Linked DNA regions of Homo sapiens: regions 1, 2, 3, 4 and 6 are each linked to region 5. The links come from fine-mapping of genetic effects on gene expression. A gene starts in region 5. Each other region holds a variant in brackets. All regions are shown on one strand. Distances are between the middles of the regions.

What was found. PIP is the estimated chance that this variant, and not a neighbour inherited with it, causes the effect.
Region 1: its variant is fine-mapped to the expression of INF2 in whole blood (TOPMed, PIP above 0.99).
Region 2: its variant is fine-mapped to the expression of INF2 in blood mononuclear cells (TOPMed, PIP 0.98).
Region 3: its variant is fine-mapped to the expression of INF2 in whole blood (TOPMed, PIP above 0.99).
Region 4: its variant is fine-mapped to the expression of INF2 in whole blood (INTERVAL, PIP above 0.99).
Region 6: its variant is fine-mapped to the expression of INF2 in whole blood (INTERVAL, PIP above 0.99).

Annotation. Positions count from the first base shown.
Region 1 is chr14:104,736,924-104,740,923 of GRCh38, reverse strand. ADSS1 (adenylosuccinate synthase 1) reads right to left here. Exons shown (of 13, transcript NM_152328.5): 3 at 2,486-2,548; 4 at 1,546-1,596; 5 at 1,108-1,174; 6 at 216-323; 7 at 4-85. It overlaps LOC124903396 (a long non-coding RNA gene), which reads left to right and starts at 3,410. Exons shown (of 3, transcript XR_007064365.1): 1 at 3,410-3,646. The variant C/T (reference allele first, on the strand shown) is at 1,997.
Region 2 is chr14:104,784,381-104,789,595 of GRCh38, reverse strand. All of the region lies in intron 3 of AKT1 (AKT serine/threonine kinase 1), which reads left to right. Among named protein-coding and RNA genes, the nearest start is that of AKT1, 8.8 kb to the left of the region's middle. The variant T/C (reference allele first, on the strand shown) is at 2,924.
Region 3 is chr14:104,709,014-104,714,228 of GRCh38, reverse strand. INF2 (inverted formin 2) reads right to left here. Exons shown (of 23, transcript NM_022489.4): 11 at 4,846-4,948; 12 at 4,524-4,609; 13 at 4,041-4,141; 14 at 3,222-3,292; 15 at 3,043-3,150; 16 at 2,530-2,600; 17 at 1,676-1,796; 18 at 1,237-1,401; 19 at 920-1,022; 20 at 623-784; 21 at 1-26. Among named protein-coding and RNA genes, the nearest start is that of ADSS1, 13 kb to the left of the region's middle. The variant G/A (reference allele first, on the strand shown) is at 2,238.
Region 4 is chr14:104,770,123-104,774,642 of GRCh38, reverse strand. It overlaps AKT1 (AKT serine/threonine kinase 1), which reads left to right. Exons shown (of 15, transcript NM_001382430.1): 9 at 663-731; 10 at 1,063-1,188; 11 at 1,264-1,392; 12 at 1,551-1,765; 13 at 2,191-2,278; 14 at 3,796-3,898; 15 at 4,223-4,520. The coding sequence ends at 4,302. Among named protein-coding and RNA genes, the nearest start is that of SIVA1, 19 kb to the right of the region's middle. The variant TCGCC/C (reference allele first, on the strand shown) is at 2,374.
Region 5 is chr14:104,687,292-104,692,506 of GRCh38, reverse strand. INF2 (inverted formin 2) reads right to left here and starts at 2,889. Exons shown (of 23, transcript NM_022489.4): 1 at 2,768-2,889. RefSeq lists silencers at 2,376-2,425, 2,516-2,755, 2,776-2,865, 2,966-3,225 and enhancers at 2,918-3,907, 3,908-4,895.
Region 6 is chr14:104,935,676-104,940,890 of GRCh38, reverse strand. AHNAK2 (AHNAK nucleoprotein 2) reads left to right here. Exons shown (of 7, transcript NM_138420.4): 7 at 1-3,638. The coding sequence ends at 2,828. It also overlaps a transcript of PLD4 not described here. Among named protein-coding and RNA genes, the nearest start is that of PLD4, 13 kb to the right of the region's middle. RefSeq lists an enhancer at 896-1,396. The variant C/T (reference allele first, on the strand shown) is at 2,138.

The DNA.
Region 1 (4,000 bases), 49 kb before region 5:
CACCTTGAGCCTTTTGAGTTGGCCTTCAATGTCTATTTCCAGGGTGGGGAACATCGACTGGTGCTGGTGGGCCAGGTTCTTGAATCTGCACAAGGGACAGTCATCATCACCCCCTGTCATGGTCCATGCTGGTCCTCAGGGCCCTCCCCACTAGCCACAGTCCCTTCCGGCAACTTCTCCCCATCCTCCCCGGGGACTGCAGACGGCTCAGGTACCTGGAGGAAAACTCATCAAAATCTGACAGGAGGTCGCAGATGCGGAGGCCTGTCCGGGCAGCTTTGGAAGAGTAGGTTGGTCCGATTCCCTTCTTGGTGGTGCCTATACTGAAAGATGGGGAGTGGGTACCCATGAGAACCCAGGAGCCCTGAGGAGCTCAGGCATCCCACTGAGGCCATGACCCCCGCCGGCTCATGACTCCAGTGCCCACCATTGCTGCCTGTGTCTGGCTGAGCTGTGAGTGTGTGCGTGTGTGGGTGTACGCACTAGCATGGATGTACTGGTATGGTGTGTGCCTGTGGGTGGATGTGTGCATGTGGAGTGTGTGCATGTGTGGCTGTGTGTACTTTTGTGCATTTGCGTGGGTGTGTGGGCTTGTGTGGCGTGTGCACATGTGCATAACTGTGCGAGCATGCGTGGGCGTGTGGTGTGTATGTAAGAGCATGAGTGTGTGCCTGTGTGAGAGTGTGAGTGGGTAAGTGTGTGACCATCACCTCTCTGAGGCAGGACACTCATCTGCTTCACTCCTGTGTCCTTGGCACATCTGAGGTTCTACTAAACTGCTTTAGTGTTCCTCGTGTCTTCCCTGGGGCCGTGTGGAGTCAGGAAAGGTGGTGGGTGTGACAGGTGACGGTAGGGCTTATGCACTCCTGGGGGGAGCCGCGTGGCAGTGGCAGCCGGCAAGGACAGTGTGCAACCCCAGAGAGAGACGGGCTGGCTCGTCCGGGGGTTGGGTGATGCGCTGTGGAATTTTGACGGTGCCATTCTCCAGGGGCTTTGAGTGGGTTGAGGTACCCTCCTCGTTGTGCCCAGGACCAGACACGCCCCACAGTCTACCGGCTTACGGGCCCAGAAGACTCCCCGAGGGTGAGAGTGTCCCGGCAGACTTACTTCTTCCCCTCTTGTGCCTGGCGCTGCACTTCCTGAAGTCCGTCGACAGCCTGGTGAAAATCAAACACTGTCGGGCGGGCCAGGTGAGGGCAGCAGGAGACAGGAGAGAAGCAGAGGACAGATGTGTATACATGGACCTCACCTCCTGCTGGCCTGAGTCTCCTGGGAAGGGGGTGGTTGAGATTTCAAAGAGGACAAACTGGGGTGTGACCATGAGTGTCTGGGGCTCAGTCTCCCCACCTGCAAATGGGCTAGTGACCCCTGACCCAGCTCCCAACTTGAAGCTCTTTGAAAAGGGTAATGTACAAGCTAATGGAGCCATGTGGAGCAAGAAGGCCTTGGGGACTTCCCTGATCTCGGTGGCCATGTAGGAGCAGGGCCGGCTGGCAATGGTGGGGGCAGGAGGGGCTGTTCCCTGTACTCCAGTGGGAAACGTACCAAGGTGGGCTCTGTCAGAGATGATGAGCCTCTTCTCCCAGTCCTTCAGGCCTGCGGGGACACGGCACACAGGTGGGTCAGTGTTCACAGGTGCGCTGCAGCTCACACGTGAGGGGCCAGAGCTGGGCTAGCTCGCCCGGCTCCCATCCAGGTAAGGCATGCAGGGAGGAGGCTGACAGGGCCACCTCTGTTGCGCAGCAAGCGGCAGACCCGCCCCTCGTTGTCTCCTCCCCAGCTGAGACTCCCGGACCCTCACTCCACCCCGCCGCCAGGATGCCCACTCTCGTGCCTGCAGGCTTCGCCCACTCCAGGCTGGGAAGCCAGAGCTGGTGTGAGTGCCCGGCTTTCCTCCCTAGCTGCTGCCACTCTGAAGGTGACCTGCCCCCTCAGGGCCTCAGTCTGGGTACCCCCTGGTGCCCATGTCCCCAGAATCACATTCTTGCTCTTTTCA[C/T]ACCCGTCCCGCCCTTGAGCCTGAGGCTGCAGCTCAGCGTCCTCCCAGACCCACTCAGGCTGCCGTCCGTCCCTGCCCACACTAGGTCTGACTTGCCCACACCCCCAGCTGGTGGGTCTGGCCTCTGCGTGCCTGGCCAGATGCTCCGCAGAGCCCCCAGGAGCCACATCCTTCCCTGCAGGCATAGTTAGGCCAGCAGTCCCCACTTCCCACTGGGTGTCTGGTCCAGGTCCCTGGCTCCTTCCTGGACTTCCCAGGTGCTACCTGGCCCCGTGATGCTGAGGCCACCAGCATCTGAGGCCTCTGGGTTGCCCAGCTCACTCGCTTTCTGCGCGGGTAGAGCCGGCGGGTGATGAGCTGGGCCAGCTATGTTGGGAACCCACCCCTGCCAGTCCCCTCCGTGGGAGAAACCCTCAGGAAGGCTCCAGCCAACAACCGCTCAGGGCACCGCGTCTGGGACAGGGCAAGTCTGCAGGAGCTTGGACCTACCTTTCTTTTCATTCTTCTCTGCTTCCTCAAACAAGCCTGGCAAGTGGATGACCACCCCGTTGCCTGCATGAGAGACAGAGGCATGAGAGACAGAGTTGTGTCCCAGACACTGGAAAACATACATTAAGAACAGCATGAAATGGGTGGGTGCGGTGGCTCATGCCTGTAATCCTAGCACTTTGGGAGGCTGAGGCAGGAGGATCACTTGAGGTCAGGAGTTCGAAACCAGCCTGGCCCACATGGTGAAACCCCATCTCTAGTAAAAATACAAAAAATTATCTTGGCATGGTGGCGCATGCCTGTAATCTCAGCTACTCGGGAGGCTGAGGCAGGAGAATCGCTTGAACCTGGGAGGCGGAGGTTGCAGTGAGCTGAGATCCTGCCACTGCACTCTGGGTGACAGAGCGAGACTCCGTCTCAAAAAACAAACAAGCAAACAAACAACAACAAAAAACAACCCAGCATGAAATGGGCACACCTATGTTCATAGCAGCATTATTCAGAGTAGCCAAGAGCTGTCCATTGACAGATGAATGGGTAAGCAGAACACGGTCTACCCATACGATGGAAGAGTATTCAGCCTTAAAAAAGGAAGGAAATTCTGACACAGGCCTCGAAGACATTATGCTGAGTGAAATAAGGCAGTTACAAACGGACACAAACAGGATGATTCCGCTTATATGAAGTCCCTGGAAAAGTGAAATTCATAGAGATAGAAAGTAGAATGGGAGGCGCCAGGGGCTGGGAGAGGGAGACTGGGGAGTTATTTGATATTTCAGCATTTCAGTGTGTGAAGATAAGAAAGTTCTGGAGGTGGATGGTGGTGATGGATGCAAAACACATTCCTCGGTATTTAAGGAGCTGGAAATTGATGTCCCTGCAGAAACCTGCGCGTAGATGTGCAGCTCTATTCATAATCGCCGAAACTCGGCAGCAGTCAAGAGGCCCATCAGTAAACAAAAGGAGAAATCAACTGTGGTCCATCCAGACAGTGGAGTATTATTCAACACTGAAAAGAAATGAGCTTTCAAGCCATGAAAAGACATAGAGGAAAGTTAAATGCATGTTACTGAGTGAAAGAAGCCAATCCGAAAAGGCGACATACTGTACAATTCCAACTCTGAGATTCTGGAAAAGGCAAAACTGAGGAGACAGCATAAGGTGAGTGGCTGCCGAGGGTTGAGGGGGGAGAGATGAATGAAATGGGTGGAGCTCGGGGGTTTTAGGACAGTAAAAAATTCTGTACGATACTATAGTGGCAGATACACAGCATACGTTTGTCCAGACTGGTAGAATGTACAGCACCAAGTGTGAACCCAGAGGTGACTATGTACTCTGGGTGATCATGACCTGTCAGTGTAGGTTCATCGATTGTCACAAATGCACCGCTCTGGTGGGGCATGGTGGCTCATGCCTATAATCCCAACATTTTGTGATGCTGAGGCAGGAGGATTGCCTGAGGCCAGGAGTTGGAGGCCAGCCTGGGTAACACAGCAAGACTCCATTTCTAAAAAA
Region 2 (5,215 bases), 97 kb before region 5:
GAAGGCTGACAATTTTAAAAAATCAATCCTGGGCCAGGGCGCAGGTCTGGCTGAACTCGGCCTCCAGCCTGCAGTTTTCCTTCCTTTGATAGCTCCGTGCCAGGCTTTGGCCAGAGGCTGTGTGGCTCTTTTGAGGTACTTTCCCCAAACAGCTTGCTCACCTTGCCCGCTTGCCCCAGTACTCCTGGGGCCGTGCACCAGCCTGGCTGCAGCCTAGCCCCGTGGAGAGCTGCCCTGGTGCAGCCCCGGCCTGGAGCCTGTTTTTGTCCACTCGCGGCTGTCTTCCTGAGCGTCCCCCCGTCCACATGGCTGGACCAAGTGGGTCAGGAGAGGGCCGAGGCGGGTGGCCGGGATGCTGGGACCCAGGATGAGGTGCTCTGGGCTCTCGAGAAAGGGCTGGGCCTAGGCCAGGAGTGGGTGCCGGCCGCAGGGGCACCACCTGGACTCCCTCAGGCTGGTCGCTGTCCGAGAGGGGCCGGGGAAGAGCTGCAGGCCTGGCTGCCTTCGGCAGGCTGTGACCCAGCAGGCCAAGGCCGAGTGGGCGGGGGTCGAGGGAAGCTGCCTGGGGCGCGTGGGTTACGCGGCAGACGCTCCTGAGTGTGTGGGCAGCGTGTCCAAGCCACGGATCTGGGTGCCTGGCCGGGCCCGGGTGACACGGGACCGTGTGTCCATGCGGCTCACGGAGGGTCCAGTCTCCGGACATCTGAGTCCTTGCCATGCCCTACCCCGGGCCCATGCCTGGCATAGACCCCCCAGTCCAGGCCTCAGGGCAGCCCCCTCACCACTCCTGCTGAGTTAGCCCCAGGCGTCCCGGTGGGGAGTATGGAGGCTGGTCTCTGACCCCAAGCAGGTGCCTAGGCTGGGCCTCCTTCCCACCCCCTCTCCCCGCCTTGAAGTCCTGGCACTGGCTGTCCCTGCGGGGGGGCACTGAGGCAGGGAGAGAGTGGTTCCTACCCCAGTGTGTTACTTCGCTTTGGTGAGCGACATAGAACCTCACTGCATCCCCAGCTGCTGCTCAGCCATCCAGCTGGTCCTGGGGTCCCTGCGTGAGGTGGGGGACCTCAGAGGGTACAGGCCACTCCCCTTCATCCTGGAGGAGGCCTTGGCTTTGCTGAGTAAACACCCTTGAGAAGAGGTCTGTGGGGGACTCTGAGCCCACTCCAGAGAGCAGCTGCTGCGGAGGGCCCCGCAGGGCTAATTGTTTGTGTGCAGATGGAGGCTGCTCATTACCCCGCCAGGATGAGGGGCCCAGCAGGACCCTGAGGGAGGGAGCCCGCAGACTCTCCCCTCAGCCTGTGGGAACCTTTGGGCTCCAGGCCAGGGCTGCCTGTGCCTCCTGGGCCTCAGTTTTTCCCAGGCTGTCAGGTGAGGGTCAACCCCAGGCTGCGTCTAGGTGGCTTCAGTGTGAGACCCGCGGGCCCTGGGCTGGTTAGTGCCAAGCTCTGCCTCCCCTGGGGGAGCGTTGAGGGTCTGGAACGGCCCCCGTGGGCAGGCCAGGGACAGAGATGGGGAGGCAAGTGTGCTGGCTCCTGGTGGGAGGGCTGGGCAGAGAGTGGGGGTCCCAACAGCCCTGGGCCTACCCGGGAGAGGGGCAGGAGGCACAGGCTGGTGGAGGTCATGGCATGGCTGTGGTGGAGGCCGCCAGCATCAGGGAGGTTCCTGTTTTGGGAGCTTGTTGAGTTCTCACTTCAAAAACAACAAAAGAGGAAGCCGAGGTGGCCTTGAGTGGGGGTGAGGGGTCACTGCTGGCCCCAGCCCTGGACCTTAGCCCCCACGCCTGGTGGCTCCTGAGTGGACAGCTCTTCTTCCTGTGTGTTTCTTGGTCACTGGCCCTCTCTGGGCAGGGATGCCCTGTGGGGGGCTGGACTCCGGGAAGGGAAACTGAGGCCCAGGAGAGTGGACAGAATGTGGGTGGAATGATTCCTGTGCTGGGGCCTAGACCCCCGTACACCTTCCACTCTCAGGAGAAGCCTGGCCGGGTTGCATCAGGCCGGGTTCCTAGAAGTCCTGCACGAGGCTGAGCGGAGGGAACTGGCGCGGCCCCCGCTGGCGTCCCCTCTGCCTGGGCACACCCGGCCCGGCTTGGGGCCAGCACCCTGCCCTCGGGCCCTCCCATAGCTGAGACTGGTGGCTGTGGCTGTGGCTCTGGGCCTGCTCCCCAGGCCACCCTGGGTGGGCAGCTGCCTGCTGCTTCTGTCTGCTTGGACCATTGTGCCTAGTCCCATGGCCTCAGGAGAAGGTTCCCCCAGCCCAGCGCTGGGGCCCCGGGCAGGTTGGCAGAGGGCCCTGGGGCTCCAGGCCAGGATGGGGCTGTTAGGCGAACCCTAGGCCCCTTACTTCCTCATCTCCAACGGGAGTTCCCTTCCCTGCCATGCCGCCTTTAGGTGTGTTTTCCTTGAACCTTAAGGAATGATAGGTTTGGATTTCAGAAACGTTGGAATTGAGGGGGTTGGGAGTTCATGGGTGACTCTGCTGCCAATGTTGCGGGCTTTGGGGTGGGATCCTTGGGGCGCTGTGTTTGGGCTCACACACCCCCCAGGCGGGCCCGGTGACTGCAGACCCCACCCATACCCTGTAACCTGGCGGGCCCACCTGCCCAGGCCCTCAGCTGGTTGTCCAGCTCAGGGGTGGAGACACCCCCTGGGCAGGCCTGGCGGGGAGGTGGCTGCTCCCTGGGCCTGGAGAATGCAGAGAGGCCCTTCGGCTGGCCAGGGTCTGGCTGGCCTCCCCACAGACTGGGGCCAGGGGCACAGCAGCCAGGTGTAGGGCGCGGAGACGCTGAGCTGCACAAGCTTGGTGAGGTGTGGGGTGAGGCCACGGGGGTCAGGGCCACAATGTCCCAGCAGGCCGGGGGATCAGAAGGAGCACCCTCCACAGCTGGCCGTGCTCTGGGGGCCCTCCTGCCCCAGGCGTGGCTCCAAGT[T/C]GGGGCAGAAACAAGATGGTGGGGAGATGGAAGGCCCCTCTGTGGCGGGTGCTTCCCATGGTCGGTGTGGAGGACGAGGTCCCTACTGCCTGGTTCCAGTTCCCCCAGCAATGCAGGGCACTTTTCCTGGGGTGTCAGGGATTGAGAGGCCAGCACTGGAGCCCTTCAACCGCCAGGGGCCCTGCCCAAGAGAGACGGGAGGAGGGAGGGGCTGTGGGCATGGCTGCGTGCCCCCGGCCGAGCCCCGGAAGGAGCCTGTGCCCGTGCCCACTTCCTTTCCCGAGGGCAGTGTCTACACGTGGGACACTGTGGCCAGCCCTCCCTCGCAGCAGGCACTGTGTGCTGTCCCCATGCCCAGCTTCCTCCCACGCAGGGAGCGAGGGTGAGGGCCCTGGGAACCCACTGGGTGGAGGGCACTTGGCAAAGCCTGCTGCAAGTTATGGGGAGAGTGGGCGGGGGCAGAGTAGGAGGCGCCAGGGAGGGGCTGCAGCCTCATCTGCAGGGGTCCTGAGTAGGCAGGGTGGGCCATGACATGGGTGGGGCTTGTTTGGGGCAGACCAAAAATGAGGTGGGGGACAGGGACAGGGACAGGGTCTTGGGATGTGCTGGGCTCTGCGATGGATGGGTGTGTGGCAGGTGGGGTGCCTTTGCCGGCCCGAGGGGTGGGTGACGGGCAGTGCCTGTGGGGGAGGACATCCAGGCCCAGGTGGTCTGTCAGGGGCAGCACCAGGGAGGCCCAGTACCCCACCCAGTAGAGCCCCAGGAGAATGGAAAGCTGAGACCCAGGTGCTTCCCTGGAGTGGCAGGAAGAGAGGCCCCAGCGCCTCCGGCTGTGCCTCAGCGAGGTGGACGGGGTCATGGTGGTGCCGCCTGCCCGCACCATGTTCCTCCCGGGGTGTGTGTGTCGGGCTGAGGCCTGCTCCATGGTGGAGCGGAAGGAGGTGAAGAATTTGCAGTTTGTGTCAAGTTACAACCCCTGCCTTGGCGGCAGGACCTGGGGTCTCTCTGGTCATGATCTGCCTCTGAGGGTCACCTCCCCTAAGTCTCCGTTTTCCCAGGGAGCTGATGGGCATGATGAGCCCTGCCCGCCCTGCCTGCCTGGTGGGCTTTCTGGGAGAGCAGAATGGGTCCTGGGCTGGGCGAGGCCCAGGCAGGTGGAGCGCCAGTCCTCTGCCTGGCGGGAACAGACACCTCTCCTTGTGCAGACTGGCCACTTGTGCCCCCTCAGAAGGGCTTGTGCCGGGAGGAGCAGTGGATGTATTTCACCCACAGACCTGGGGGCTCCAGCCAAGTGGGGTCAGCTGGCCTCCGTTGTGTGGCCCCTCCCCTGCCCCCACCCCAGCCTGGTTGTTTACAGGGTTCGAGGGCTGCTGGTAAAGGGGTGTGTACTCCCGGGCCCGGGCAGAGGCCTGGCAGGCCGGGCCCTTCGCGGTGAGCTGTGCGGTCTCCTGGCAGGCGGGGAGGGTGGGTTGCGGGCCCCTCATGGGCTGCCGTCAGCGGAGCCGTCTGCTCAATGTGCTGGAGAAGGTAAATGGGCCCCCGGCAGCTGTCGGGGCGATGGATGTGTCGGCAGTGGGGACCACGGTGGCCGCTGTCAGCTGGCGCCCGCTCCCAGGGCCTGCTGGGCTCACTTTGCTGTGGAGAAGCAGCTCGGTGCCGCCTGGCACCCTGCCAGCCGCTGCCACCACCGTCTCTGCGAAGTGTTTATCCAGCAGTTTCCTGAGAACTGGGGACTTTGAGAGAATGTTCAGGGAGCTGAGGACGTGGTGGCCTAGGGGGGCTGACACACCTGGTGGCTCAGGAGGTGGTCAGTCCCGGGACGTGGAGGGCCACCAGCTGGCCCTCAGGGGCCCACCCAGTCCTGCCCATGGCGCGTGGGTCCTGGCCCCCATGTCTAAGTGGGTGCCGCTTTGGGGGGCCTGACCCACAGTGTGGCCTGGGACACGTGTGTGAGGCGTGGAGAGGGTGGGCTGCCTGTGACTGTCCATGTGGTCCCCGTGGTGGTGGTGGGGTGGGTTGGGGGAGGCCAGGCAGGAGCAGCTTCCTCTCAGAACCCCGGTATTTGGTCCAGGAGGACTTCTGGGAAGGAACCCTCTTTCCCTGGGGGTGCTCCAGCCCCTTCCTGGGGATGAGCGGGGTTGGGGATGGAAGGTCACTCCTGCCGGAGGGCCACCCGGGACATCGGGATGCCAGAGGGACCAGGGCTGGGGTTGTGTGGGGCCCAGGAGGTGCAGGAGGAGTCGAGGGAGCCTGGTCTCCGCTGTCCCCCCGGGCAGGGACAGGAGTCTGGCC
Region 3 (5,215 bases), 22 kb before region 5:
ATCTCCTGCAGGGTTACTGGTGGCCACTGGATGGAGGGACACACCAGTGAAGGGCAGGCACCCTGCCCCCGAGCCAGCCCAGGTGCAGCCTCCTCCATTCCGCTGTCTACCTGAACGCCCTGCAAAACCTCCTCCCCAGAAAGCCTCCTCTGATGTCTCAGAGCAGGACCCGGCCTCAGCGTCCTTGGTCTGTCTACACTGTGGCAGGGTGGGGGACACTGGGCCATGCCATTCCCAGCACCCTGAGGCAGCCACCCCAGGAATGGGGTCCTCCCACCAGGGCCTTGCCGCCTGCCTTTCCTGCCACCTCTAGCACCCTCTGAGCCCAAGGGCATCGGTCAGTGGGCCTGGCCTCATCTCTCTGGAGCCCAGCGGGCTGGACTGCTGCTTCAGCACTGAGGGCAGGGCCTGCGGTTACAGTGGAGGAGCTGGAGTGAGTGGAGGGAGGGATGAGGGCTGAGCGGCCACCACCTGTCCCCTCGGCTGTCCCCAGTCTTAGGGGCCTCCAGGGTGGCCCAGGGAGAGGAGAGGGCTTTCCAGTGAAGTCAGGAGGACTTCCTGGAGGCACAGGGTAGGGACAGTGGCAAGGGGACCATGAGGAGGCAGTGGGAGAGGGTCTTACCAGGCTCTGTGGCTCTTGGGGGATCCATGGAGGCTGCCTTGCTGCCCCCGTCGGTGTCCCCGCGGCCCCGGGCTGTCTTCCGCAGCTGGAAGCCCTTCCTGATGTCAGCCAGCAGGGCATCGATGACACACACCTCCTCCTGCTTCCCGGGCCCCTTCCTGACTGAGGAGCGTGGGGCACTCAGAGAGCGGCATGGGACCCTGGAGCCCACCTAGAGGGCTGGGGGTGGTGGGGAGGCTGGAGCACAGACAAGGATCCCAGAGTCACCCCCTCCCCGCCCAGCCGGCCCAGCCTCACCAGGCTTCCCGTCCTCTCCCCGAGGCCGCCGCGCCTCCTCCTCCGCCAGCTGCTGCTTCCTCCTCTCTGCCTTCGCCGCCTGCTCCTTCCGGTCCTTGTTCTCCTGCACTGGCAGATGTGGCCCCGTCACCCCAGCGTGGCATCCCTCAGGGGCTCCATGGGCCTGGGCGTCCCCCTCCCTGAGCCGCAGCAGCGCAGGGCCCACATGGCTGTGTCGGCCCGACGAAAGGTGCCTCTGCCCATCCTGCCGGAGGAAGGCCAGGGGCCTCGGGACCCCACTCTAGCCAGACAGGCTGTGTCCCGCCGGGCTGCCCCACCTTCAGGGCGCGGAGGAAAAGGTCCCGGAAAGCCTTCATGGTGCTGAACGTGTCCTCCAGGGACAGCTGCTGGGCGTCCTCACACAGGTAGTCGGCCAGCTCCCGTTGCTTCTGCTCGATGGCCTCAAACAGCTCATCCAGTGCCCGGAAGGCCGAGATGCTGGCCTGGGGGCAAGGGCACGTGACAGTCCCGTGAGAGCCCCGCGCGGGCACCACCCGGGGTGAGGCCCTGAGTTGCGGGAGGGTGACGGCCACAGGGACAGGCCCTGAGGACGGTGGTCTCTGACAAGGAGCAGGGGCCTGTGCCCTGACCATGCACACCTGGGGAAACTCGGGCCCCAGGATCCACCCTGGAGCCAGGAGACAGCACAGCCACTCGCCCAGCTCACTCTATCAGGGCAGCCTCTCCCGCCAGCCCCAGGCCCAGGTGCCCACTTGCCTGGAGGCGCTCGGTGTACTGCTCCTGGACCTCGGCCACGGAGGCAGACACCTTCCGCTCGGTCTCCAGAAGCTTCTTCAGGTTGGAGCTGGCCTCTGAGCGGATGATCTCCAGGTTGATCCTGAAAGGTGAGGAGGGCCGGGCAGAGACAGCAACGGCTGACGTCAGCCTCGCTGGGACAGGGGAGCCCCTCCCCTGCACCCCCCGGCACCCCACTGTGCACCCTGCAGGCTGTACTCTGAGGCTGCACGTGCAGTGTTGGGGTTGAGTGCCTGTTCCAGCTGACCCTCAGCCCCCTGTGAGCATCTGGGCGGGGACCCTAACGGTCAGCCTGTCCTGCTTGCCTAGTTCTCCCCAAGGCTGAGCAGCTCCTGAGCCAGAGAACCTTCCAGGGCAGGTGGAGCCCGGGAAGAACTCCGTGCTAGGGGCCCGGACTGTGTAGTGGGGTGGCCCAGGCTGCCCTCCTGCCTGGGTTGTGTGACCCAGGAGGTGACACTGCTTTCCTGGGCCTCCGTTTCCTCATCTATACAATGAGGGAGGCCCGAGCCTGCTCACGGCTGTC[G/A]TGAAGGTCCACCTTGTGAAGGGGCTGTATTAGACCTGCCCGTGGTGTGACCCTGACCTGGCCAGCCCTTGCCCACTCTAGGCCTGTTTCCTCGCTTAAGTCAGAAGGGGATAGGCCACGGCAGACCCGGTCCTGTCCCAAAAGGGAAGTGTTCTATTGGGCAGGGCTCCGTGGCGCCGGGGCTGCGCTGCAGCTGTGAGACCCAGCCCTGGCGGGCAGCCACCTCACTGCCTGGGGACAGAAGTCAGGCCCCCACCTGGCTGAGGTGGGCGGGCTGGCAGGAGCTACCTACCCTGCTGCTTGCGAGGGCTGTTCCAGGTCCCGGGGCAGCTGCAGGAGGTCGGGGTGGCTCTTTTCCGCTTCCTGCAATGGGACACGTCCAGTGAGATCCACTGTGGTCATACTCTCCACCTGGGGATGACCCTGTTCCCACTCCCCCAGCTCTAACCCTTAGCAATTAAGGTCCAGAAAACCCCCAGTACTCCAGACCCTCAAATCTTTCCCTTGGGCCTGGCTATGACTTTGTGATGTTTCTGCTTTTCCTAGGGACTGTCCCCCAGATCAGGGACAGGTATCCTGGGGAGGGACAAGGCTCGTGCAGGGGAGCCAGTGCTGCAGGAAGGAAGGGGTGCTGGGAGGGGTGGGGGCGTGGCTCTGACTGAGGCTGCTGGCTCTAGACGGAGCCCTGAGACAGGGAGACCGGCGGCCTGAGTGGTGGGCATGGGGGTATGGCCTCTACGCCTCTACACCCCAGGTCCGGGGGGACTTGAAGCCCTCCCATTATGCCCCCGCCACCACGGCCCACCTCCAGCACGTGGTGCAGCAGCGTCACGCGGTTCTGCTGGGACTTGGTCTCCGTGAGCTTCAGCAATGTGCTGATCTTGAAGCCGTCGGCGTCACCGGTGTGGCTGCCCTGGGAGGGGCAGGGAGTGAGTCTCACCAGCCCCTGGCACCAGGTGGGATGGGGAGCTGCCCCTGACTTACGTAGTTGAGGAAGTTCCCAATTCTCAGGATCAGCTGGCAGAAGATGGGCAGCTGGCGGCTGGTGAGCAGGCCTGCAGGGGCAGCCAGGGCTGGAGAGGGGCTCTTGGTTCGGAGCCCCCAGATGCCCTGGCGGTGGGGTGTGGTCCTGCTTGCCAGTGCCCCTGCACTCCCTGGCTCCTCCCCAGGCTCAGCCCAGCACCGGAAGGATCACAGGACAGGGCCTGGGGGCTGCAAACCCTCCACCGACGGGAGTGGACACCTACAGTGTGCCTGACAGACGTGAGCTGTGCCTCACTGGTCCGTACCTGTCCCTCTCCCTGCCCAGTGGCTGTGGCAGGTCCCCATGGATTCCCCTTTCAGAGATGGTGCCCGTGTGTGTGCACTTATGTCTGTACATGTATGTGAGGGTGTGTGTGTTGGGGGGGTGTGTACGTGTGTCTGTGTGTCCTGTGTGCATGTGTGTGACTGTGCTTGTGGGCTTGTGTGTGTGCACGTGCCCGAGTGGCGGTGTGCATGCGTGTGTGCACGTGCCTGAGTGGCGGTGTGCTTGTGTGTGCGCGTGCCGGAGAGTGGCAGTGTGCTTGTGTGTGTGCACGTGCCCGAGTGGCGGTGGGCATGCGTGTGTCTGTGCGTCCAGTAGGTGTGTGCACCGAGGTGGTGGCAGCAGGGTGGTTTCCGGAGTGGTGGTGAAGGCTGGCACCCTTAGGTGCTCTTAGCAGCCATTATGATACTGGCAGTAGCAGGGGCCCCGAGCAGCCCTCCCGCCCCGGTTCGGAGGCCTGTCCCTCCTGCACACGTGCCCCGCTTGGCCCCACTCACTTTCGCAGGCAGCCAGCACCAGCTGGGCCTTGGGCCGCACCATGTCCAGCACGGCGGCCGCGCCCTCACACAGCAGCATGCACTCGATTCGCAGCTGGTAGCTGGGGATGGCACAGACAGGGATCAGTGGCCTGCACCCCCCACCTGTCCCTGCCAGAGGGGCACTCAGCACAGGGCTCTGGCTTGGGTGGTGGGCAAAGGGAGGGGGTTTCCACCGCCTGCCCCATCCAACAGGCACCCTCCCGGGCCTGCGCAGAGCAGGATCCAATTCCTCCAGAGGCCTCCAGCCCCACACTTTGAGGGGAAGGACTGGGGGTGGGGCTCGAGTGATGTTTAGAAGCCCAACCGCTGCAATGCTGCTCCTGGAGCCCGGGGCAGCCATTGGCACAGCCTCTTCTCCTCCCTGGCTGGGCCCTGCTCCCTATTCCTGCTCTCCTCCCACCTGGGGCCCAGGCCCTGGGGTCTGAGGGCGGCCATGCTCACCAGGGAATGGCCAGCAGGAGGAGGTAGAAGTGGTCGGCGCTGGCCAGCTTGGCTCGCTCCTCTGTGAATGCCCGCAGGTTTTCAATCTGCCAGGAGGAGAACGGCATGTGGGATCCCCCCATGCCAGCTTCCCGCCCTCCCGGACTGCCCGCCGGGCTCAGCCCCTCCAGTGCCCATCATGGCTCCCTGTGGCTCACGGTTCAGGGCAGAGGTAGGGCTGGGATGCCTCCCTTCTCTGTCTCCCTGCTGGGAGCCCCCGGGACAGCCTCTCCCTTGGTTGGTGGCACTAACTGGGGGTGGGGTGTGGGGGTGGTCCTCTTACCTCGTGCTTCTCGGGAAGGAGCTTAAGGAGTTGTTTGAGAACCTCCACATCAAACTTGGTGGTATCTCCAGCCCGGATCATAGCAGCGACCTCCTCGTTGGAGCTGGAGCAGGGAGAGGACCGGGCAGGGGTGAGTGAATCATGAGTCACCCCCACCCAGCCTCTTTGGGACCCCACCTGGCAGGGTTTCCCCACGTAGTCATGGGGTGGCCAGGGCAGGGGGGACACAGAACAGTCGAGTTGTTGCCCACGGTCACGCGGTGAAGGGGACCCAGGCTGACTCCCACCCTCGCTACCCTCCATGGGCCCTGCTCAGGAGATGCAGGATGGGTCGGGTCCAGCCAGCTCCCTCGGGCCAGTGCTGGACACC
Region 4 (4,520 bases), 82 kb before region 5:
TGCCTGCCAGGCTTTTGTTGAGGCCCGGGCTCTGTCCTGCAGAACCTGTTCTGGGGACTTGGCCCAGGAGGTATTTACTGTGAAGGGGGCCAGGGTCCAGCCACTTGGTTAGTTCCAGGTCACTGTGTTTGGGGACGATTCTCCTGCAGATGGGGCCTTTGCTTTAAAAGCACAGTCGCCTGTGGTGGAAGGCGGGAGGGTGGGTCTCGCCTGGGAGGGTGTGTCCTCCCTTTGCGAAGGCCCTGGTGCTGGGAGCACTGTCCCCTGCTGAGGTCCCAACTCACCCTGGAGGACCTGAGCCCAGGCCACCTTGCTCACCTTTCAAACACTCCTTGGCACCTCAGGGGCTGCCGGGGCCCAGCCTGATGGTGGCGTGGCATGAGGCAGTGTGGTGTGGGGCAGTGTGGTGTGGGGCAGCGTGGCATGGGGGCAGTGTGATGTGGGGGTGTATGGTGTGGGGCAGTGTGATGGGGTGTGTGGTGTGGGGCAGTGTGGTATCGGGCGGTGTGGTATCAGGCAGCGTGGTGTCGGGCAGTGTGGTGTGGGGCTACGGGCGGTGTGGTATCAGGCGACGTGGTATCAAGCAGCGTGGTGTCGGGCAGCGTGGTGCGGGGCTGCCGTCCTGCCTGTGGGGCCGCAGTTCCAGCTCCCCTTCCTTGCAGGCCCTGAAGTACTCTTTCCAGACCCACGACCGCCTCTGCTTTGTCATGGAGTACGCCAACGGGGGCGAGGTAGGGGCTGGGGCTGCGGGGGATGGACTTCGCGGCCTGTGGGCCGCCCATGGTGGGGCCGGTCCTTCCCGGAGCCTCGGCTACTCTCCATGGCACCAGACGGTGCTCCCTGCTGGGTGGGTGGTGTGATGCCTGCCCAGGCAGCTGCCTGCTGTGGGGTGACTTGTTCCTGCTGAGTTAGGGCTTCTGAGACTTTCCAGGCCCCCGTGCCCTCTGGTGGCTGGTCCCTTCCCTGTGCAATGCCGAGACCCGGTCTGAGAAACCCCAGCCCTGCAGGCCATGGGGGCAGAGGCCCGAGCCACGGCTGTGCCTCAGGTTGCGCCTCCCGCAGCTGTTCTTCCACCTGTCCCGGGAGCGTGTGTTCTCCGAGGACCGGGCCCGCTTCTATGGCGCTGAGATTGTGTCAGCCCTGGACTACCTGCACTCGGAGAAGAACGTGGTGTACCGGGACCTCAAGGTGCGCTGGCGGGCAGGCAGGGGGGCAGGGCCCTGGGGGCCTGGCGGCACTGACCTGAGGCCACCTTTCCCCTAGCTGGAGAACCTCATGCTGGACAAGGACGGGCACATTAAGATCACAGACTTCGGGCTGTGCAAGGAGGGGATCAAGGACGGTGCCACCATGAAGACCTTTTGCGGCACACCTGAGTACCTGGCCCCCGAGGTGTGCGCCCCACCTGCGTGCATACGCGTTGCTGCGTCCCCACGTCCTGAGCACACGCAATGCTGTGTCCTCTCTGTGCCCCAAGCACGTCACACCTCCCCCGGCAGTGTCCCGGACACCCCTTGATGCCGAGTCCTGCCCATCTGCCACCCGTGCAGGTGCTGGAGGACAATGACTACGGCCGTGCAGTGGACTGGTGGGGGCTGGGCGTGGTCATGTACGAGATGATGTGCGGTCGCCTGCCCTTCTACAACCAGGACCATGAGAAGCTTTTTGAGCTCATCCTCATGGAGGAGATCCGCTTCCCGCGCACGCTTGGTCCCGAGGCCAAGTCCTTGCTTTCAGGGCTGCTCAAGAAGGACCCCAAGCAGAGGTGAGGGCCGCCCATCCCAGCTACAGGCTACACCTCCATCCCCTCATCCCCAGGCTGCACCTGCCCCTGCGCCAGGCGGTCCTGGCACCTCCCAGACTACACTGATAGCCAAAGCTTGATGTCCTTGGCCAGGGCTGATCTCCAAAGCCTCAGGCCCAAGCAGAGTGGCGGGCAGGCCGGGGTCAGTTGGGCCTCTGTCCCCAACCCTGCAGCCTGCACCCACCCACTCAGGAAGCCCCTGCCCTGCCGTGAGCTCTGTGGTGCTTTGCTACCCACAGCTGCTCAGGGACGCTGCACCACCGGCTCCCCTCCCTGGCCCCGGAACGTCCTGTCTGGCGGGCCCTACATCACAGGAGGAAGGGGCCTGAACCCAGGGCCTGGGCAGGTGGCGGTACCGACACTGTGGCCTTGTTTCCTGCCTGCAGGCTTGGCGGGGGCTCCGAGGACGCCAAGGAGATCATGCAGCATCGCTTCTTTGCCGGTATCGTGTGGCAGCACGTGTACGAGAAGAAGGTGCGGCTGCTCCCCGCATATTCACGCGCACGCATGCTCCCCACATATCCACACTCACGCATGCACGTGGCACGCTCGCCAGATTTCCCACACAC[TCGCC/C]CTCACCTCAGGAGCCTGCTGCAGTCCTGGTACAAGGAGGGCCTTGCTGCACCAACCTCAGCGCCTGGTGCTCAGAGGCTCTGGCACTGCCGGGTTCCACCAGGAAACTGGCCTGGTCCTCATTTCCTCCTCCCCTCGGAGGTGTGTCACACTCTGAGTTTCCTCCTCCCCTCGGAGGTGTGTCACACTCTGAGTGCCAGCCTTGGGGTTCCCTTCCCTGACGCTGTGCAGTGAAGGCTGGCTGGTGGTGGACCAGGGGTGCTGCCCCTTGGCCTCCACGAGTTCCTCCTGTTTGACCTCAATCCCTTCTGCCGCAAGGAGAGCCCAGCCCTATTTCTGGCTGTGCAGGGACAGGGACAGCACCTACTTTTCTGGCACATGGGGGAGTCCGCCCTGGAGGGAGGCAGCTCTTTCTGCATGAGTCGCCATCCTGGGTGCTCATCTTTCAGGGACCCTAGGAGCCCTGGCCATCACCCCAGCTGATGGGGTCTGCCAGCTGGGTTCGGAAGCCTGCACTCTGAGATGCTGGGTGCCCTGTCACCAGGTGTGCTTCTGCCCCGTTCCCAGCCTGCCCCTCCCCTGAATGCCTGTCCTAGGCTGTGTGCAGCTGGTCGGGCTGGGCAGCCCTGGGACCCAGCTGGGCACCTGTTCTCCCATTAACACAGGGTGCCCTGGTCCTGGTCCCCGTTCCTGCCTTGAGGCCTGCCACCCTCCTGCCCTGCCCTCCAAGGGTATGGGGGGCCTGGGCAGTGCTCAACCTCTGCCCAGCCTTGACCAGAGACCTTGCTAATTGACAATGGACAATGCTGGTGCCCAGCCCAGACTCTGGGGTGGGGCAGTGCTTGAGGGGGTCCTTGACTGTGGGACCTGAGGGGCTCTCTGGCAGCTCCTCACGTGTGCACATCACCTTATAGTCACCCTTCATCCTGGGTCATTGAGAGTCCTGTCTGCAGCCAGATGCCAGCAGGCTGTGGTCCTGTAGTCCCTGAGCCATGGAGGCAGGGTGGGCTCATCCTGTGCACCTTGTTCCACAGTCTCCCTCTTTCCCAATTTACAAGAAGACCAATAAGAAAAATAAGAAAACAAGAAAGAAAAAGGAAAAATAAAGTTATCACCTCCTGGTAGCAGGGAGGGTCTCTCAGAGCTGGGCTGCACTACCTCCTGTCGCCTGCTGGGGCTGCTGTGAGGGCAGCTTTGCGTCTCAGCTGTTGAGGGTTGTCTCCGTGCTCCTGCACCCCTCATGTCCCTCCCTCCCAGAGCTGCCTCTGTGGGGGGCTGGTGGCTTGCTGCTCTCTGACATCAGTCCTGCCTGGAGACCCCTTGGAGATCCAGGTGCTTTGAAGGTCTTGAGCACACTTGAGGGTGTGCTGGGAGTGGGGAGCGAAGCTCATGACTGTCCCGTCTGCCCACCTCTGCAGCTCAGCCCACCCTTCAAGCCCCAGGTCACGTCGGAGACTGACACCAGGTATTTTGATGAGGAGTTCACGGCCCAGATGATCACCATCACACCACCTGACCAAGGTGAGGGGCCACTGCCTGCCCCCGCCCACTCCCTTTTCTCTCCACACTCAGAGAGGCCTGCAGTGTTCAGCTTTTTTGGCTTCAGATGTTTTAAAATCTAAATATTTAAAAAGGTTCCTTTTGGAGAGTGCCAATGATCAGGGTGGGAGGCAGTGCTCTGAGGGCCCAGGTCCCTGTGTCAATCTGTGGGGCCCTGTCTCAGTTTCCTGGCAGTATGGCAGCGTGCTGGCCGTGCTTTAAGAGGTTGGCTTCCTACTGGAGCTGTGGGTGGGTGGAGGTGGCAGGGAGGTGGGGCACCGGGGTCTGAGCTGTCTACACCCACAGATGACAGCATGGAGTGTGTGGACAGCGAGCGCAGGCCCCACTTCCCCCAGTTCTCCTACTCGGCCAGCGGCACGGCCTGAGGCGGCGGTGGACTGCGCTGGACGATAGCTTGGAGGGATGGAGAGGCGGCCTCGTGCCATGATCTGTATTTAATGGTTTTTATTTCTCGGGTGCATTTGAGAGAAGCCACGCTGTCCTCTCGAGCCCAGATGGAAAGACGTTTTTGTGCTGTGGGCAGCACCCTCCCCCGCAGCGGGGTAGGGAAGAAAACTATCCTGCGGGTTTTAATTTATTTCAT
Region 5 (5,215 bases):
CCTACCCCAGTGGTAGCAACAAGGGCTGGGGGGCCTCGGCCTCCAGCTACTCTGTGGGGCCAGCCCATTTGCACCCTGACCCCCAGTAAGTGCCCTGCACCTGCCTGGCACCGTGCTGAGCGGGGCTGGGCTCCAGGCTCTGGGCACAAGGGCAGATGCACACAGTAGGGGCTTTATCAGCACCTCCTGGCAGAATGGATGGCACTGAGTGTAAAATGGCACCGACTGTCCCGCGCCTCACCTGTGAAATGAACGCTCCTGCAGGACCCACGTCGCACTGGGAGGGATGAGGGTGGGAGACCGTGCGGAGGGACCCCGCAGGCTGGCTCATTCCTTTCCTCCTCACCCACTCACCCAGCACACAGACCCTGCCCAGGCTGGCGTGAATGGTGAGTGGACAGACCCGGCCTGAGGCTGGCCCTCGGGGACTGACATGAGCCCTCAGAGGGGCGACCCTAAGCAACCCCTGTGGTTCCTTATTTAATTACAGCTTAGAAAGGGCTGTGAGAGAGGACGGCCCCTCAGGAGAGGACAGGCACCACCGGTCTGCCCTGCTCTCCTGGCCTGGTGGTTGCCAGGGTATACCGGCACTGGGCTGGGGGGCAGCTGTGTGAGCAGACCTCACCCCAGCTCAGGACCCAGGCTGTCTGGGTGCTCAGAGGCAGACCAGGCAGGACTCTCCCTCCTAGGGTGAGGCTGGCAGGAGTGGAAGCCTCTCTAACAGGGGGCCAGGTGGTTGGACCCTGCTCACCCCTCCAGCGACGGGGAGCCCGTGCCCCTGCCCTCTCTCCTTCCCACCGTTGGTAGAACTTAGTCTTTGACTTTAGGTGTCCACTAGGCCTGGGTCTGCTGTGGCCCCTGGGGACCACCCTCCAGAGACTGGCTCCTATGTGGCCTCCACCTCCCGGCCTTCCCGTCCACCATCCTGAAAACAGAGGTGGGTGTGCCTTCTCCAATGTAATGTGTCCACTGGGCCATGAACCACACACCTATCAGACACCTGCTGTTTGCAAGATGGAGGTAGGGGAGGGGCTGGCAGCAGGGAGTCAGGTCTCATTCCTGACTACAGGGAAATTTGACCTCCAGGCACCAGCAAAAAGCCAGGGGCTTGAGCTTACTTCACTGTCCCCGTCCAGAGCTGGGCCAGCTGCGTCCTGCCCCACACCCACAGGCAGCACCGCATCACTTTCCAGTCACCACCCACCCCTCCCGCAGCCTGCATGAACCGCATAACTTTTCCAACCCAGGAAGTAACTGCACTTTGATGGAAGGCGCAGAGTCTATTTCAGGTAGGAGCTTCCACGTCCCCACATGTGCGGTGTGTGTCATTCGCTTGACAGCCGTCAGCTCCTCCACAAAGTGGGCGCTCACCTGAAGGTTAACTCAGGAGCCCTGGCTGTGGAGGCTACAGTCGCACCTGGCCACTTGGTCCGTCCCCACTAGCGACATCCCCTTTGCCGGGCTGCAGGGCCCATGACAGTCCAGGGATGGGAGGGCAGGGCCTGGGCAGGGCCCACTGCACCAACCTGGCTTTTAGAACAGAAAATTGCTGCTGCCCTGGTAGGGGTGGGAGCAGTGTGAGGTCTCAGACCCCAGGCCTGGAACCCAATGCTACTATTTGCTGCACTGGGGGCTGAGCACCGACACCCCAAAAGCCCCTGGCTGGGTGGCACCCTCGGGGTCTGAGGCACTGCTCTGGGACCCCACCTTCCCAGTGCAGGGCGGCAGGGAGCAGGTCCCAGCCTGAGCTGCTGTCCCACCCTTCAGAGTGCAGATGTGGAAACTGAGGCCGGAAGAGGGCGAGTATCCTGCTCCATTCCAGTGCCAGACGGAGGGGCAGGGCTGGCAGTAAGGGAATTTCCTACGTCCAGCGCCTTCTGGGTGTGCCTGACCTCTGGCCCGGTTCCTGGGTTCCTGGTTCCCTGCCTGGGCAGGGTCTCTGCCTCTCTGCCTCCTGGTGTGTCCAGCTGGAGTGGGCAGTAATGCTGTGGTCACAGCTGAGCTGCGGGAGCCCTGGGTGGGGAGCTTGAGCCCCAGAAGGCCCAGACAGACAGACCACCCCCCACGCCTGTGCTCCCCAGGGGGCATTGGGGACGGTCAGGGACACAGCTGGTCACCCCGCCTTCCCCTCCTTAGTCATGGTCACTCCTGGGGCGACTCCCCAGTTAGAGGGTTGACGGGTGGGTCTGGGGGCGTACAGGGATTGGATCCTACCCCACCCAAAAGGAACAGAGAGCTGTGATGGAGGCTGATTCCCCTAAGCCTGCCAGCGGTTGCGGGGTGGGAAGGGCTCCCTGTGCGCCCACCTGCGCGTGGGCAGCTGGAAGCCAAGCAGTCAGGGTGGGGCCGCAGGCCGGCGCGCACCTCGGGGTGCCACCCGGGCGGCGGACCCGAAGTTGAAGTTTATTTTCCCAACTGTGGCTGATTCATGGTCAGGATGTGGCAGCCGCGAGGCGCGGAAATCCCGCCTGCCCTGGGAGTAGGCCCGGCCGACCCTGGGCCCACCACTCTGCGGCCAGTGCGCGCTCGGGCGGTGCCTCGGCGCGGAGGACCATAGTCCCGAGCGGGGCGCGCGGAGCCGGGGGGGCCAGGGGCGCCCTGGGGTCCCCGCCCGGGAACTGTACCCTGCGCCGCCGGACCGCCCGCCGCCACCTGGGCACACACGCCGCAGCCCGGAACCTCGCTCCTGGACCCAAGCACGCCCCTGCCTCCTCCCGGACTCAGTTTCCCCTGAAGCTCCAAGCGGACCCCGAGGCCAAGGACTTACCCGGTGAGGCAACGGCCAGAGGGCGGTGGTGCGGCCGGCGCTCCGTCCGGGGCCGGGTCAGGGGCTGCGGGCAGCCGGCGCCCACTGCCGCGCTCCGCAAGGCTCGGACGGTGGCTCCTGGCGGGCGCGGGGCGGGCGGGGCGGGCGGGAGGAAGAGGAGGTGCCGCCCCGCCCGTCAGCGGCCACGTGGGGAGCGAGCGCGGGCCGGGGGCGGGGCCTGGGGGGGGAGGTGGGTGGCTGGGGGTGGCCCCGCCCACTGTGGCCGGTCCCTGAGGGCGCTTTAAGGGGTCTCCCCACTCCCGTGAATAACCTGGCCGCCCCCTCGCGGTCCCTGCTGGCCTGGCTCCTGGTGGGCGGAGATGGGGGTGGGACGCGCAGATCGGGGCCGTCTCCCGCCTCAGCCCCCACTGTCCGCCCCGTCCCTGCCCTCCACCGCCTCCCGTCCACCTACACCCCTATCCTCCGGTGGGACTGGCCTCCCAGGCGCCGCTCACCTCTCTCTGCCCCGGCCCGGGACTCCCGTTCCAGCCAGCCGGATCCGGAGTCCCCGCGTTCGGGGATCCCTCAGCAGAGATGGCTCTTCCCAGGCTTTGGGGAGAGAGAGCCTACCCATCAACCAGGCCACCCATGTGGCCTCCTCTCCGCAGCCCTGCCTGACCCCCTTCCACCCTTGATGGGGTCTCGGCGGTCTTGGGCAGCCGCACTTCGCCGGTTGGTGGAGACAGCTGCATGAGGGCCGCGGAGGTGTCGCAATGGGGTGGGTTTTCTCTGCCACCCCTCTGCTGTCCGGCCTCATCTGTCTCCTAGATTGAGGGGGGCACCCATCCCCCCACCGCCGACATTGACCAGCATGGGGCGTGCCCATAGTCGGCTCTGAAAGCCAGCCTGGTTGGATGAGAGCCAGACCCCAGCTCTGGAAGTCCCTTCTGACGTCTGACCCTCAGTCAGAGCTGCAGGAAGCAGCGCACCAGGCCTGGGGTTTGGGGGCCACTGGCAGCTAGAGGGAGGGCAGAGGAAGGCAGGCCTGGGGGAGCCCCCGTGTGACATGTGACAGAGCAGACACAACCCCTGCCCTGAGAACCGGCGCCAGCACTCCCTGTGCGGCCTCAGGCTCGGATATGACTCTGTGGAGCCTCAGTTTCCCCATCTGTAAAATAGAATAAGTACCCGTAAGGGCTGTATGAGGGTCAAGAACATGCGGATAAAGTGTCTCCACTCGGAGTCCTGACATCTCTCTCCGGAGGGCCTGCTGTGTGGGCCGTGGCGGCCAGGGCTCAGGGTGAGGGCGAGGGGAGAGAAAAGGGCTCCTGAATGGCTTCCCAGCCCCGATGCAGCTTCTGCTTTGAGGCCAGCTGCGTGTCCTTTGGCTTTGGTGTGCCTCCGCTCCGGTGGGGATAAGCGCCGAATTGCAGGCTGCGTCTGTCTGCTCCCTGTGCGGACCTTGCCCTGCCCAGCAGCCCCAGCCCCGGAAGTTTGCTGGCTCAGCCCCAGTGCAGGAGCAGCTGCAGGCCACAGCCCCGGGTGTGCCTGAGGAGCCAGCCAAGGCAGGCGCTCACTGGACACCCTCCAACCTGGGCGGCCGCTGCTCCTAGACAGGCACTCTGCAATTCTTGGAATGCACCTGGAAGGCCGGCCTCCGGCCCTCCACACCGGGCTCCAGGGCCCCTTCCAGAGCAGAAGGCCTTCCTGCCCTCCCTCAAGCTGGGCTTTGGGTCTCCTGGTGCACTCCTGGACCCGAACATTGGTGCCTGCCCTGGTACCACCCCACCCTGGAGGGCACGGGCGGGGCTGACTCATCTGCGTTGGGAGCTGATGCCTGGCAGCGGTGCTGGGCAGTGGGTGTGTTTGTTGATCCAGTGAATGGAGGAATGTGAGGAGGTTGGTGGGGAGTGAGCTTTGACCTGCAGCCCCCTCCCCTGTCCACCTGCCTGGGGGAAAGTCAGAGTCCTGAGCCTTACTCAGAGGCTGGAGTAGGAGGTCAGGTGTGGGCGAGGGGTCCACCTTTCCTGCCCTGATGGGGGAGGGAGGCCCAGCGCCCCCAGGGCCGCTCCTGCCTGGGGCTGTCTCCCTTGCACCCAGTCGTGCTTCCGAGCTGCACACCTGGTCCAGAGAGGCCAGCACAGGCCGGAGCAGGGTGAAGAAGGTGGGGTGAATGTGATTTAGTTGGAGAGAGGTTGGAGAAGTCCCTGGGGTCGGCAGGGAGTGCAGAGGAGGGCTTTGGGCCCTGATTAAGAGTGTGTGTCTGTGTGTGTGTGTGTGTATGTGTGTGTGTGTGTGTGGAGTGGAGGCCGAGGTCAGAGGTCTGGGAGGGTGGAAATGTGGACACTGAAAGGGGGTTTTCCGTCAGGCTTGAACCCACCATGCCCGGGGCAGCAGGGTTCAACCCGGCTTGAGCACTGATTTTCTGAGACATACAGAGGCCCCCTCCTCTTCTCCTTCAGTGGCTCA
Region 6 (5,215 bases), 250 kb before region 5:
CTGTTTCTCTTGGTCAGGTATCTTTTCCTAAATTCTATAAACCAAAGTTTGTGTTTTCAGTCCCCCAAATGGCAGTTCCTGAGGGAGACCTACATGCAGCAGTGGGTGCCCCAGTCATGTCTCCTCTTAGCCCTGGAGAAAGAGTGCAGTGCCCCTTGCCAAGCACCCAGCTGCCATCCCCAGGCACCTGTGTGTCTCAGGGCCCAGAAGAGCTTGTGGCCTCCTTGCAGACATCAGTAGTGGCCCCTGGAGAAGCCCCTTCTGAAGATGCTGACCACGAAGGGAAAGGGAGTCCCTTGAAAATGCCTAAGATTAAGCTTCCATCATTTAGGTGGTCCCCGAAGAAGGAAACAGGGCCAAAGGTGGACCCAGAATGCAGCGTGGAGGACTCAAAACTCAGCCTGGTTTTAGACAAGGATGAAGTGGCCCCGCAGTCTGCCATCCACATGGATCTGCCTCCTGAGAGGGATGGAGAGAAGGGGAGGAGCACAAAGCCTGGCTTTGCCATGCCAAAACTTGCACTTCCCAAAATGAAGGCTTCTAAGAGTGGGGTCAGCCTGCCACAGAGAGACGTGGATCCTTCCCTTTCTAGTGCCACAGCAGGGGGTAGCTTTCAAGACACAGAAAAGGCCAGCAGTGACGGTGGTAGGGGAGGACTTGGTGCAACAGCAAGTGCCACAGGAAGTGAGGGTGTGAACCTCCACCGGCCACAGGTCCACATTCCCAGTTTGGGCTTTGCCAAACCTGATCTCAGATCCTCCAAGGCCAAGGTGGAGGTGAGCCAGCCTGAAGCTGACCTGCCTCTTCCCAAACATGATCTGTCTACCGAAGGTGACAGCAGAGGATGTGGGCTCGGGGATGTCCCAGTGAGCCAGCCTTGTGGGGAGGGGATAGCCCCCACACCTGAAGATCCCCTCCAGCCATCCTGTAGAAAACCAGATGCTGAAGTCCTCACAGTGGAAAGCCCAGAGGAGGAAGCCATGACCAAGTACTCGCAGGAAAGCTGGTTTAAAATGCCCAAGTTCCGCATGCCCAGCCTTAGGCGCTCTTTCAGGGACAGAGGCGGGGCTGGAAAGCTGGAAGTGGCTCAGACACAGGCACCGGCAGCAACAGGGGGTGAAGCAGCAGCTAAAGTCAAAGAGTTCCTTGTTTCTGGGTCAAACGTGGAGGCAGCTATGTCCCTACAGCTCCCAGAGGCAGATGCAGAAGTGACAGCTTCTGAGAGCAAATCATCCACAGATATTCTAAGGTGTGATCTTGACAGCACAGGCTTGAAGCTGCACCTCTCCACTGCTGGGATGACTGGGGATGAGCTTTCCACTTCTGAGGTCAGGATCCATCCATCCAAAGGACCTCTCCCTTTTCAGATGCCTGGCATGAGGCTTCCAGAAACCCAGGTTCTTCCAGGAGAAATAGATGAGACTCCTCTTTCCAAGCCAGGACATGACCTTGCCAGCATGGAGGATAAAACAGAGAAATGGTCTTCCCAGCCTGAAGGTCCACTTAAATTGAAAGCTTCAAGTACTGATATGCCATCCCAGATTTCTGTGGTTAATGTGGATCAACTGTGGGAAGATTCTGTCCTAACTGTCAAATTCCCCAAATTAATGGTACCAAGGTTCTCCTTCCCTGCCCCCAGCTCAGAGGATGATGTGTTCATCCCCACTGTGAGGGAAGTGCAGTGTCCAGAGGCCAATATTGATACAGCCCTTTGTAAGGAAAGTCCGGGGCTCTGGGGAGCCAGCATCCTGAAGGCAGGTGCTGGGGTCCCTGGGGAGCAGCCTGTGGACCTTAACCTGCCTTTGGAAGCTCCCCCAATTTCAAAGGTCAGAGTGCATATTCAGGGTGCTCAGGTTGAAAGTCAAGAGGTCACTATACACAGCATAGTGACACCAGAGTTTGTAGATCTCTCAGTACCCAGGACTTTTTCCACTCAGATTGTGCGGGAATCAGAGATCCCCACGTCAGAGATTCAAACACCTTCGTACGGATTTTCCTTATTAAAAGTGAAAATCCCAGAGCCCCACACGCAGGCTAGAGTGTACACAACAATGACTCAACACTCTAGGACTCAGGAGGGCACAGAAGAGGCTCCCATACAAGCCACCCCAGGAGTAGACTCCATTTCTGGAGATCT[C/T]CAGCCTGACACTGGAGAACCATTTGAGATGATCTCTTCCAGCGTCAATGTACTGGGACAGCAAACACTCACATTTGAAGTTCCTTCTGGCCACCAGCTTGCAGACAGCTGTTCAGATGAGGAGCCAGCAGAAATTCTTGAGTTTCCCCCTGATGATAGCCAAGAGGCAACCACACCACTGGCAGATGAAGGCAGGGCTCCAAAAGACAAACCAGAAAGTAAAAAATCTGGTCTGCTCTGGTTTTGGCTTCCAAACATTGGGTTTTCCTCTTCTGTTGATGAGACAGGTGTTGATTCCAAAAATGACGTCCAGAGATCTGCTCCCATTCAAACACAGCCTGAGGCACGACCAGAGGCAGAACTGCCTAAAAAACAGGAGAAGGCAGGCTGGTTCCGATTTCCCAAATTAGGGTTCTCCTCATCTCCTACCAAGAAAAGCAAAAGCACCGAAGATGGGGCAGAGCTGGAAGAACAAAAACTTCAAGAAGAAACAATCACGTTTTTTGATGCCCGAGAAAGTTTCTCCCCTGAAGAGAAGGAAGAGGGTGAACTGATCGGGCCTGTGGGCACTGGGCTGGACTCCAGAGTGATGGTGACATCCGCGGCAAGAACAGAGTTAATCCTGCCCGAGCAGGACAGAAAAGCTGACGATGAAAGCAAAGGGTCAGGCCTGGGACCAAATGAAGGCTGAGAGGTATGGCTCATCAGTACAAGAGAGATGCAAAAAACTAAGTTGGAAAGTAAAGGCTACACACACATATGGAGCACCCCATCCCACAGCACATTACATCCACCTCACTTCACAGAACGGAGAACAGAGCAGAAATGACCAGAACACCTTTGTCACCATCACACAGCCCTCCTAAAATGGAACCAAAGCTTCCCAGCTCCCTCAAAGCTTTGGATGCAAAGAAGGCACCCTGACTTCCACAAGACACCAGAATTCACACGGTACTCAGAGGCACTGCTGGGGAAGTTTGTTGGTCTTTATTAGATAAATTTCCAGAGACCTGTCCATAATACCCAACAGAACATGACTGTTTCTTTGAGGAAAGGGTTATAATGTCTGTGGTGTACAAGTCGTTTTTGGTATAACTTCTTTCCTGCTGCTGCTGCTTCCCGGCAAACATAGTTTTCCTATTTCAGGCAGAGTGCGGTATATTCCAGGAAACACTGTTTCCTACTCACTTAGCTTACTTCTTTGTTGAATGCCTCACTAATGGCAAGTTTCAAGATGTTTTGGGTGACAATGCACACATGCTGGGCAAAAGGGTGATGGCCAGTGGCTGGCAGCTGGGCCAGCAGAAGCTAGGACATCTGTGAGTTGTCATTCTCATCTATCCATGTCCACTGGCCTGCCAGCATCCGCCAGTGCCTTGCCAGTGTGCACGGTCCCACACTGTGGCCCCTGAGTCCCCTAATGTACACGCTGCAGCCAGAATGCAGATGGAGCTGGCTTGGCTGTTCCCTGGATGGGCAATAAAGAAAGTGCTGCATCCCATGCTGAAGGCTGCTGAGGTCTTCTGTCTCAGGGTCGAAGTTTACCAGGGCTTTCCTCCCACACACTCCTGGTCTCTACTAAGCAGCTCTAGAGAACAGTCAATGAGGAACATTTGGGTGGTTGCCTACCTATCATCCATTTGTCCAGGTCCTCCTCTGAGCCAGAGGCTGTGAGGAAGACAAGGAAGATAGGGCTGAGTTCACAGTGTGGCAGGGACACAGACGTACAACCCTCCCTCCCTCCCTCCAGCTGGAGGCAGTGTGGGATGGGAGATGGAGTGCAGAGTGGGGACAGCACAGAAAGGTGACCTTGGCCATCTTTAGTGGCCCATCCTCAGAAGCTTCCTTCACCACAGAGGCGCTCTTGGGCAGCCCACAGGAAGCAAATCCACGTGGCGTAGCGGATTGAGGTTCAAGGGTTTCCCTACAGTCTTTCAGTGGTCAAATCTCTTCCCAGATGCCCCTGCCAGATTCATGGGTATGCAGTGTTCAAGGGGGCAGTTGGAACTTGCCCCCAGCTCCCTCCTGGCCTAGGTGGGCTCCTGGTGAGAAGCGCTTATGGCCCCCTGGGGAGGTGGCTGCTCTCATGGCTGTGGATATGGGAGCAAGAGCTGGGCTGTGAGCCAATCTGGAGGACCGCAGTGCCTGGAGGGTGAAGGCCACTCCGAGGCTACCACTCGTGCTGCCCTGAGAGGTTCCAGAGGGGTGACAGCTATGGGGTGCAGGAGCCTGGGCAGGGGAGAGGCTGGGTTCTTTCCCCATGCCACCATGGGCATATGTTCCCTGTGCTGAGTTGGGGAGGCCCGTGGGTGTCATCCAAGTTAGGGCACATAGAAGCCTCTAGAAAGTGAACTGACACAGGTCCCCTGGGGGCTCATGAGCAGGGGAAGTGGGAAGGGAAATTTGGTGGACACTCATCCCAGTTAAGCAAGGCCATCACCCTCTCCCTTCCCAGGGCTTCCTGCCTTCTCTACTCCAACTTGTGTGTGCCAGACAAGCTAGGTGAGTGCAGCCCAGGGGGAGGAGTCTGCTTGGCTCCATGGGGCTTTTGTCCCTCTCTGATCCAAGAGTCAAGGCCTGGGATAGTGGGGACCTTGGTGCTAGAGGCCAGAGAGACAGCTGTCCCAGCATGTGAGGAGTGGCTGAGCAGCAGGGGCCCCCACAGGGTTCTCGCGTGGCCTTGGTTCTCTGTGTATGAGTTATCTATGCTGCATAAGAACATCACTACAAATTAGCAACTTAAAACAACACACATTTATGATCTCCCAGTTTCTGTGGATCAGGAGCCCAAGTGTGGCTTTGTTGGGTTCTCTGCTCAAGGTCCCATTAGGCTACAATCAAGATGTCAGCTGGGGCTGTGGTCTCCCCTTCAGGTATGACCAGGAAAGCAGCCACTTCTGAAGCTCACGTTGTTGCTAGCCACACTCAACTCCTTGTGGATGGGATGATTGAGGGCCCCAGTTTCTTGCTAGTTGGGGGCTGGAGGCAACCCCAGTACCCTGCTACATGGGCCTCTTCATAGGACAGCTCATAGCCTAGCAGCTCACTTTTTAAAGCTAGCAAGGGATAGACTGCTAT